Regions from separate parts of the Homo sapiens genome. Here region 2 is linked to region 1. The links come from fine-mapping of genetic effects on gene expression. A gene starts in region 1. The other region holds a variant in brackets. All regions are shown on one strand. Distances are from middle to middle. Region 1 holds the start of DHX32 (DEAH-box helicase 32 (putative)). Region 2 overlaps BCCIP (BRCA2 and CDKN1A interacting protein).

Region 1 (5,381 bases):
CAGGGAGCCTCAGATAAGAGTTATGAAGGACAGAGAAAATTATTACTTTTTCCTTCTCTACACTACCTTGTTTTTCTTGGTGTTTTTTTTTGTTTTGTTTTGTTTTCTTTTTTTTTTTGAGATGGAGTCTTACTCTGTCACCCAGGCTGGAGTGCAGTGACACAATCTCAGCTCACTGCAACCTCCACCTCCTGGGTTCAAGTGATTCTCCTGCCTCAGCCTCCCAAGGAGCTGGGACTACAGGTGTGCATCACCATGCCCAGCTAATTTTTGTATTTTTTAGTAGAGTCAGGGTTTCACCATATTGGACAGGCTGGTCTCGAACTCCTGACTTCATGATCTGCCCGTCTCGGCCTCCCAAAGTGCTGAGATTACAGGCATGAGCCACAGCGCCCAGCCTTTTCTTGTTTTTTTTTTTTTTTTTTTTTTTTTTGAGACGGGGTCTTGCTCTGTTGCCCAGGCTGAAGTACAGTGGCATGAACATGGCTCACTGCAGCCTTGACCTCATGGGCTCAAGTGATCCTTCTGCCTCAGCCTCTTGGGTAGCTGGGACCACAGGCACGCACCACCATGCCCAGCTAATTTTTTAATTTTTTATAAAGTTGGGATCTTGCCATGTTGCCCAGCCTGGTCTCAAACTGCTGGACTCAAGCAATCCTCCTGCCTCAGCCTCCCAAAGTGATGGGATTATAGGTGTGAACCACTGCACCTGGCCCACTATCCCGTTAAACAAACAAACAAACTTTAATTGAGAGGCCATTAGGCTGAGGCAATGACAGAGCTCTAGAAGGTCCCACATAAGCAAACTAAAGTCCAATGTAAACAGTAAAACCATACTAGACTTTATCAATCAGAAACTGCCAACTATTCCCTAACTCGGAACTTTCCACTCTAACCAATTTAAATGTCTTTTGTCTTACTTTCATGTTCAGCCTATAAAAGCTCACTGCCCTTGCTGCTAGAATGGGGCTCACTAACCTCCAATGGTTCTGAGTGCTGCGTAATTCATGAGTCATTCTTTGCTCAAACAAACTCCTTGTTTTTTTTGTTTTTTTTCTGAGACAAGGTCTCTCACTCACATCGCCCAGGCTGGAATGCAGGGGCATCATCACAGCTCACTGCAGCCTCAACTTCCCAGGTTCAGGTGATTCTCTCACCTCAGCCTCCCAAGTAGCTGGGACGACAGGCATGCAGCACCATGCCCGGCTACTTCTTTGTAGAGACGGCATTTTGCCATGTTGCCCAGGCTGGTCTTGAACTCCTGGGCTCAAATGATCTGTCCACCTTGGTCTCCCAAAGTGCTGGGATTCCAGATGTGAGCCACTGTGCCTGCTCCAACTCTTTAATATTTTAATATCCCTAGGTTTATCTCTTAATGATCCTAATTCTTTCCCCCATCTTAGACCCCAAAGTGTGTGGCCCCAGGCCTGGATCATATTTAGTTGCTCAGTTATTTCTTATAGTCAGGAAAATCAGAATTTCCTTGTGCTTTTGATTTCAGTAGCTCAGCCAGCTTCACCAGCAAGCACATCCACATATCTGGATTCTCAGACCACTGGGCACTGAAACAGAGCAGTTAATCCCCATACCCATGCTGAGGAAATAACACGCATCACATCTTTTAAAATATCATATACACAATGGATCATTTGAGTAAATTTAATACTAGGATCATTTGAGTAATTTTAATACTGCTCTATAGACAATTCAGTGGTACCCTAAACACAATTAATTTCTACATAGATATTATTAACTTTTCAGCTAGTATTAGTAAAATTAATAAAATTAGGTACGTGATTTAATTATTTTATCTGAATAATGTTTTGTTTTTTGTTTTAGACACTATTATTAGAACACTAGGCTGTGACATGTCATTAAATAACAATTAAAAAATCAACACATACAGCAAATTATTTTTTGTAGTGGTTACTCACCTGAGCGCTCTTACCACATTTAGCATCTCCTGAAACAATCACGATTTGATTTTGAAGCAGGTTCTCCATAAAGGAGTATTTTTCTTTCCATATAGGAAGATCTTCTCTTTCTTTCAGAAGTTTATAATAACGTGATGAATATGGCAATCCATCAAAGGGGTTAAGTTCCAAATCCTCACAGGCCAAAACCTCTTCCTCATCCCCATCGCTGGAATCCAGGGATTCAGGAAAATAGCGTTTTTCAGAGGAAGAGTTTGGACACTCCAGCCCTTCTTCTTCCATCTTGTCTGACAGTGAGCTCACGCAGCTGACATTCCACAAGCAAGTTTCTCCTATCAGTAACCCATTGCAAACAGGGCTTAAAAGCCTATTTATACAAACCCGTATGTTCCAATCTCTAAGACTTCAGTTCAAGGTTTTAGCAAGTTAAATTCCTCAAACCTGCATCTGTTCTCCGTTGCTGTGTTACCCACTGTGCTGGCTCACTACAGCACTCTTCGGCATTGTAAATGATTGTCAATAAACCACACTAAGAAACAAACAAACAAAAAGAGTAAGGAAAATTAGGAACACATATAAGTTAAAAAGAAAATGCACAGGAGTTCAAATGAAAAGCATTATTTTTTTTTTTTCTGTTAACGGGTTTCTGTCATTTCTGCTGCCTGCTTAAAAGAACAGGAATAATTTAGGCTGGTGTTTAAAGTTTGGTGGGTTCCGGTATTTCCTGGCTGGTTCAGAAAATGATTCTGCACTGGGCCTCGTGCTCTCTGCCTGACCTCTATCTCAGGCTCTGCGTCTTGATCAACTGTGAATGGAAAGCAACAGGAGGGACAGGATTGTGATTGTGAGGCTAATCAATCACGTGGTCACCTAATCCCATGTCAAAAGAGGAGCTGGACCCTATAAAAGGAAAGAACTGTGATGACCTGGTGAGTGTTCCTCTAACACAGGCTACAGGAAAATCTATTATTAAGAAATCCTTTACTTTAATGAAAAACATTTTTAAAACTTTTCATTTTCCTTTTGCTTATGTCAGTTTAGAAAGCCAAGTGAGGGGAATGAATTTATTATTTCCTTCCATATGTAGTTATGGTTGGCTTTTATTTTATATATATATAAAAAAGACAGGGTCTCGCTCTGTCACCCAGGCTGGATGCAGTGGCGTGATCATGGCTCACTGCAGCCTCAACCTCCCAGGCTGTTTTCCCCCTGCCTCAGCCTCCTGAGTAGCTGGGACTACAGGTGTACACCACTATGTCCAGCTAATTTCTGTATTTTTTTGTAGAGACGGAGTTTTGCCTTGTTGCCCAGGCTAGTTTCGAACTCCTGGGCTCAAGTGGTCTGTCCTCCTTGGCCTCCCAAAGTGCTGGGATTTCAAATGTGAGCCACCATGCCCAGCTGGCTGGCTTTTATTAATAAGGTCTTTTGTTTAATTAAACCAGAAATCTCTAGCATATTTCTTGAGATTCCTGGGTCTTGAGCCCAACATGTCAGCTCCAAGAGGCCATTAAGGACAACTTTTAATTTAAATGAAGAAGAGAAATCACCCAAGAAAGAGCAAGATTTATACCAATAACTCAGTCCCCACATGTCAGGTGAAGGGTCTTTCCCCTTCCAATTACTAGTGATTAAAAAGAAAAATTCCATTAGTGTTGCTGGAAATAAGCTCCTTTTCACATTAACCAGATAAAAATGAAAAAGAAAACTCAAGTTAAAAAGAATAATAAAATACAGTTCATGATATTTTGTAAGTTACTGCACTTTTCGGATCACCTGGTTTACCTTAATTATTGCTTTAGATGGTTGGAGCCAGTGTGCTCAACAGCTAGTTCCTAATTAGTAAGTGATAAGAAAAGCTCTCTCTCTATTGGTCAAGACAGGCTCCAGGGCAACAGTCAATCACTCAAAAAACATTTGCTGAGTGTCTTCTAAGGGCTTATTAGATGAGTAAACTAGGCACTAGATACACACATAAAGGATATTTTGAAGATGGCAGCAAGAGCAGGATAGAAAGTTTTAAAATTCACAGATGAACAAGCTAGTTTAGAGGTAAGTAACCAGAGAGGCAGAAGAACTTCATAGCTCTTCCCAAGTAAAGTTCTTAAAAATTCATCTAAAAGCCAGTGTTTCAAAATTAAAATGGAATTACAAAGGCATAATAGAAATGTTGTAATATGGATTCACTTCAGAACTCTTCACTGCCTCTATAAGGTGAGAGTAGACCCACAGAATAGCTCCAGGAAGCATGGTAGCTTGAGATCATCGCACAAGCTAATTCTGGGAAGGTATCCAAGAATCAGAAAATTCCACTCTTCAGAGAAGTTAAAATTTAATTTTATATTCTATTTTTCTTTTGTTCTGATTAGAATCCCTTCCAAGGGTTCTCAGCCTACATGTAAATTAAATTGCTATTAAATATTATAACCAATGATTGCCTTAGGTAGTATTTCTTAACTGTTTTACCTTAAAAAAAGAACAGCTATTATTTTTACCAAAAAGAAATGTTTCTCTTATTTATAATACTCCCTAAGAGTGTAATAATCTTATAATTACAGTAAATTCTTACTTATAAAGCACTGACCACTTTGAACCCTGAGGAAATAATCAAGTTTTCTGAATAGTCTTCTTTCTAAAGACCTGAGACTTACCTGGCCCCTTCATCACACATTGTGCAATGTATCCACACACATTAGCCTTAACCACTTCTCTGTTATAGTGGAATTAAAGATGGCCACAGATTATTTGCCACTGTTCCAAATGGAGAGGTAGAGTCTATTTCCTCTCCCCTTGAATCTGAGCTGGCCCTGTGACCAGTGTCACTATGACTAAAATAATGCAGTTAAGTGATACTGAATCACTTCCAAGATATTCCCATGCTTGAAACACTCCTCTTTAGAACCAGCTGTCATTCTATGAGGTACCCACGCCCAAGCCACCGGGAAGAGACCAAAGCTGAACTTCCAGTCCACAGCAGCATAAACCTTCAACCATGTGAACAAGCTGCCTAAGATGCCCCAGCCCAGTCGAGCCTCCAGATGACTGCAACCCCAGCCAACTGAGCAGAAGCAGCATCCACAGGAGCCCATACAACCCAAAGTATCATGAGACAACAAATGGTCACTGTTTTTGTAAGCTACTAAGTTGCAGGGTGGTTTGACTTGCAGAAACAGATAACCAGACTTCTGCCTTCTTAAATAAACTATACTCACAATTTAACTTTTTCATTGTGACTCAAGGTCACCATTACATCAGTTGCCAAAACAGAATGATGTCCTCAGATGTCTCCGAAATCTACAGAAGCCAAAGACCAGACTGCTCTCCTGGAGCCCTGCTCTTCCCTGGGGACTCAGAACCCATGCCACTGTGTGGTGTGGCCTCTTACCTTGTGAGGCTCTTCTCTGCCTTTCTAACCTGCTCTCCTAACCGGTGCATTAGAAGCCAGACAAG
Region 2 (5,381 bases), 47 kb before region 1:
ATCCAGAAGTTTTAAGTTTACAAAAATATTTCAAATGTAGCTGTGAAATCTAGCAAACTGAGTGTACTAAGAATTGTATTGTCTGTGCTTTGCAACAGAGGACAAAATATAGGCAGATTCTCTTATTTATTTCTATCTAATTTAAATTTTTTTTTTTTTTTGGTAGAGACAGGGTCTTGCTACATTGCCCAGGCTGGTCTTGAACTCCTAGGCTAAAGTGATCTTCCTGCCTCGGCCTCCCAGTGTTGGGATTACAGGTGTCAGTCACAGCACTTGACCTAGACAGGTTCTTTATAGAATATTCTTTCTCAGAGGTCATAGCCCTTGCGTTGTGGTTTTCCTTTAAATAGCTGTAGGAATGCAACTCTACTCTGGAAACCTTTACGTTTGCTGTTTTTTCCTAGGGATTCGATGCTTCTTATCTCCTGCTCCCTGCTCTCTCAGCTGTAGCTCAGATTGTGCTTCTGGTGCCTTAAGTGGTTTTTGTTTTTTTTTGGTTTTCTTTTTTTCTGATCAGCTGGAGCTCACATTTATTTGGTTTTATAGGAGGGTGATTTGCTTTCTCCTAGTCCTGTTAAAGCTGAAGTGAGCCAAGCGCAGTGGTGCACGCCTGTAGTCGCAGCTACTCAGGAGGCTGAGGCAGGGGGAATGCTTGAGGCCAGGAGTTCCAGGCTGCAATATACTATGATTGTGCCTGTGAATAGCCACTGCACGCCAGCCTGGGCAAAATTACAAGACCCTATCTTTTTTTTTTTCTTTTTTTTTTTTTGAAAAGGCCAGGTGTGGTGGCTGACACTTGTAATTCCAACACTTTGGGAGGCCGAAGCTGGCAGATCACTTGAGGCTAGGAGTTTGAGACCAGCCTGGCCAACATGGCGAAACCCCAATTCTACTAAAAATACACCCACAAAAAATTAGCCGGGTATGGTGGTGCAGACCTGTAATCCCAGCTACTCAGGAGGCTTAGGCACGAAAATCGTGTGAACCTGGCAGGCAGAGGTTGCAGTGAGCCGAGATTGTGCCATTGTACTCTACAGCCTGGGCAACAGAGTGAGATTTTGTCTCCAAACGAAAAAAAGAAAAAAAAAAAAAAGGAAAGCTGAAGAGGACGGTTGTTCTGAGTTTCTTCTTTTGTTCAAGGGCATCCAGATGCACAAGGCTATGTTTAATTTTCAGAAAGAAGAAACATTAAGGCTTTGTTGCGATTCCATTGCTAGAATTTAGGTTGTGTGTTTATGCAGTTTCTGCAGTATGTCAGAAATTAGTTCCAGACTCTAGCAATTAGAGACTGTGGTAGTAGTCACAGGCTGTAGTGACATTGGTTGTGGCTGTATACCTTTGTGTGTTTCAGTTAAATGTTCATTGCTTTAAAAAATTCAAAAATTCAGATTCGTATATATTTTTAACTTATGCACAGGCAGAGCAGTGATACATTGAGTGAATTTGAGACTCATCTGATCTGTTAGTTGCTATATATCCACAAATCAGCATAATCTGAGAGATATATCATAGTATTATAAAAAGTAATACATAATCTAAAATGCAACTGATTATGTAAATAAAAATCATTCCTGTAGACTAAGTGTTCAGATTGAATGCCTGCGTCACAGCAGAACCCACTGAAGATGCCTCACCGGGTTTTCTGTGCTCTGGTTTGTTGATGGATTTCACTTGACCCAGCAGGTAAACAAATGTTGTGTGTGTGCCTTGCAGGAAAGAACTGGCGGGGGCACACAGAACCAATAAGCCATGTGGGAAGTGCTACTTTTACCTTCTGATTAGTAAGACATTTGTGGAAGCAGGAAAAAACAATTCCAAAAAGAAACCTAGCAACAAAAAGAAAGCTGCGTTAATGTTTGCAAATGCAGAGGAAGAATTTTTCTATGAGGTAAGACTATCCTGCTTATTTGTTTAGATGTAAATAAGGATTTTCTTGAAAATGATTTATCAAGATTTATTGTTCTCCCACTTTAGGTCCAAGTCTTTCAAGTGTGGCTACTCTGTTTTTCTGTTTCCCCACAGGACCTAGCAGCTAACATAGTGCCAGGTGCATAGTAGGTACTCAGGAGGCTAGGCACCAGCCTCCTTGCCTGCACTGTGGTTATGAGCATGAGGAGGAGGAGGAGAAAAGTGATTAACCTGTTAAGAATGATTAGGCATTTATAATATGCTTCCTGTGAAATCTTTCATTCTAAAACCATGCGGAGAGGTAGACATTAGCCTGGGGTTTACAGATGTGGACTTTAAGGCATAGGGAAATGAGGGAAATTACCTGCGATCACACAGCTGGTCAGTGTGGAAGCTGGGGCACCCCTGCTGCTCTGTGTCCTTAGTCGTGGATGTCATCCTGCTGGTGGGATATCTCCAGCATTTTTTTCCTATAAAGGTAGCTTGTACTGTGATGGACAGCCATATACCAGAGAATATTCTTACCCTCTCTTCCTCTGAAAAATCTTGAAGTGGGCCAGGTGCGGTGGTGCACACCTGTAATCCCAGCACCTTGGGAAGCTGAGGCGGGCAGATCACCTGAGGCCAGAAATTCAAGACCAGCCTGGCCAACAGGGAGAAACCC[C/T]ATCTCTACTAAAAATACAAAAAAAAAAAAATTAGCCGGGCATGGTGGCAGATGCCTGTAATCCCAGCTACTCGGAAGGCTAAGGCAGGAAAATTGCTTGAACCTGGGAGGCAGAGGCTGCAGTGAGCCGAGATCGCGCCACTGCACTCCAGCCTGAGCAACAAGGAAGAAACTCCGTCTCAAAAACAAACAAACAAACAAAAAACACAAAAACATCTTGAGCCAGGCACGGTGGCTCACGCCTGTAATCCCAGCACTTTGGGAGGTCAAGGCGGGTGGATCACGAGGTCAGGAGATCGAGACCATCCTGGCTAACATGGTGAAACCCCGTCTCTACTAAAAAATACAAAAAATTAGCCGGGCGTGGTGGCACGTGCCTGTAGTCCCAGCTACTCGGGAGGCTGAGGCAGGAGAATGGCATAAACCCGGGAGGCGGAGCTTGCAGTGAGCCGAGATTGCGCCACTGCACTCCAGCCTGGGCGACAGAGCGAGACTCTGTCTCAGAAAAAAAAAAATCTTGAAGTGTATCTCTGAGGGGAACATATTTTCCTGAATTGGATGATATCACATCACTTTGAAGACTTCTGCAGAAGACTAAAGCGCTACAAATTTAGCTGTGCCCTTCTTTTCCAGGAAGTAAATAGTAAACATAATTTTTAAAAAACATAGGCCGGGTGCGGTGGCTCATGCCTGTAATCCCAGCACTTTGGGAGGCCAAGGCGGGCGGATCACGAGGTCAGGAGATCAGACCATCCTGGCTAACACGATGAAACGCTGTCTTTACTAAAAATACAAAAAATTAGCCAGGCACAATGGTGGGCACCGGTAGTCCCAGCTACTTGGGAGGCTGAGGCAGGAGAATGGTGTGAACCCGGGAGGCAGAGCTTGCGGTGAGCCGAGATCACGCCACTGCACTCCAGCCTGGGTGACAGAGTGAGACTCTGTCTCAAAAAAAAAAAACAAACAAACAAAAAAAACAAAACCATATGCTTCAACACCTCAGGTTGACCATTTGGGGGGAGTGTGTATGGGTGTTTTAAGATGGCGGGGTATGCAGATTTACTCTGTCTTCACACAAAAGCCTGATGCTAAGGAAGCAGCTGAGAAAGTGAGAAAAGAGTGTTTGAAGACAAGTTCTTGTTAAATATCAAATTTTACAAGTCTTAATTTCATTATGTTTCACAAGATTATTTTGACAATTAAATGAAAATACCACTTAGCTGCTTGTTCACCTCTTAGAAATTGCACACCTCTATCCCTGTTCCTCATGTGGGTTTAAAATCTACTTGGTTTGTGTTTTATAACTTCTGCCTGAATGTCCCATTTGAACTTTTTCAATTCTGAGTTTTGCTTTTTTTTAGCTCTCATTCTTATTTAAGCATATGCCAAACGTAATATTCTTTGCCGTAGATCAAATGGGTTTTGTCTTTGGGTTGTCCCGATTTTTAATTCATGGTTACTTATTTGGTTTAGAAGGCAATTCTCAAGTTCAACTACTCAGTGCAGGAGGAGAGCGACACTTGTCTGGGAGGCAAATGGTCTTTTGATGACGTACCAATGACGCCCTTGCGAACTGTGATGTTAATTCCAGGCGACAAGATGAACGAAATCATGGATAAACTGAAAGAATATCTATCTGTCTAACCCATTTCCAATGGACAGTGATGGGCTTGTTTTTGTAAAATTACCAGAAAACTCAGTGGAGATTTACTGAAAAACTCAGACTTTATTCAGATTAAGTTCCTCTACAAAAAGTAGGGTTCTGTCCCATGTGTCTCTGACACATTTACAAAATACCAGTTTTTTAAAATTTTGGTCAAATTATGAGTGGTTGATTTAAAAACTTTTCCAAGAAGAAGAAAAGCATGGAGTAGTAATTTAAAGAACTCAATAAAAACTTCTATTTTTTATTTTAAAATAATATACACAGTGTTATTTTCTTCAAGACCGTCCTGTGGATGTGAAATCCGTCTTCGCGTCATGTATCTCCCATATCCAGCAGTTCAGCCATCCAGCTACCTTTGGGACCCTGCTGCACCTTGTGTTTGCTGGGGAGTCACTGGAGAGTGCATCTCTGTTCAGTTTCAGGGCACGTCTCACACATTTGCTGTTCCTTATTCATTGTTGACACAGGGGATAGGTGATCCACTACTTGCTGTAGAATGTCCTTACTTTCACTAGGAGGCAGATTACTGAAATAGTATTGTGGTACCAGCTGCATAAATCTGTTTATTTAAGACAAAAAGATGAGATTATGAGTGGGGAAGGTGGTGAGAGACACCAAACATTATGTCTGGGCACTTCCCATCCCTGGAGAATCTACCTGTAGAACCGGTATTTAATTTGAACTCAGATAGTATCTCAGTCCGACTTTGTAAAATAAATACTTTCTGTTTTTTATGCAGCCAATCCTGTTGCATTTCTAGAATAAGTTGGCCTCTCTAGTGTTATGCCACACAGTGGAAGTGCTGTCTACCACTAACCTTTAGTGGAAACTAGTATTTCCCCTAAGGCCCATCACCATATAAGAGGCACCAATCGTATGCTTAAGAGAGCTTTGGGTAGGGGAGAGAGGGGGTATCTTTGCTTCTTATTTTAACTAGTACCACTCCACATCCAGCTGCGTAAGCCAGACATCTATGAGTCACTCTTGGTTGCTGCCTTGAACACTACTTGCTGGAATAGTAGTGGAACCTTCAAAATGGATCCAGACTCTGTACTGGCCTCTCAAAGACTAGTGGAGTAGTCTCACTCTTGCCATTGCCCCTCCTTTCCATTCATGTAGCAGCCACAGTTATTTTTCCTTTTT

The links. PIP is the estimated chance that this variant, and not a neighbour inherited with it, causes the effect.
Region 2: its variant is fine-mapped to the expression of DHX32 in whole blood (TOPMed, PIP above 0.99).

What each region holds. Positions count from the first base shown.
Region 1 is chr10:125,878,609-125,883,989 of GRCh38, forward strand. DHX32 (DEAH-box helicase 32 (putative)) reads right to left here and starts at 2,684. Exons shown (of 11, transcript NM_018180.3): 1 at 1,935-2,684. The coding sequence starts at 2,216. RefSeq lists an enhancer at 2,274-2,996.
Region 2 is chr10:125,832,059-125,837,439 of GRCh38, forward strand. BCCIP (BRCA2 and CDKN1A interacting protein) reads left to right here. Exons shown (of 7, transcript NM_078468.3): 6 at 1,714-1,888; 7 at 4,046-4,493. The coding sequence ends at 4,216. DHX32 (DEAH-box helicase 32 (putative)) reads right to left here. Exons shown (of 11, transcript NM_018180.3): 11 at 4,279-4,797. The coding sequence ends at 4,629. Among named protein-coding and RNA genes, the nearest start is that of BCCIP, 11 kb to the left of the region's middle. The variant C/T (reference allele first, on the strand shown) is at 2,573.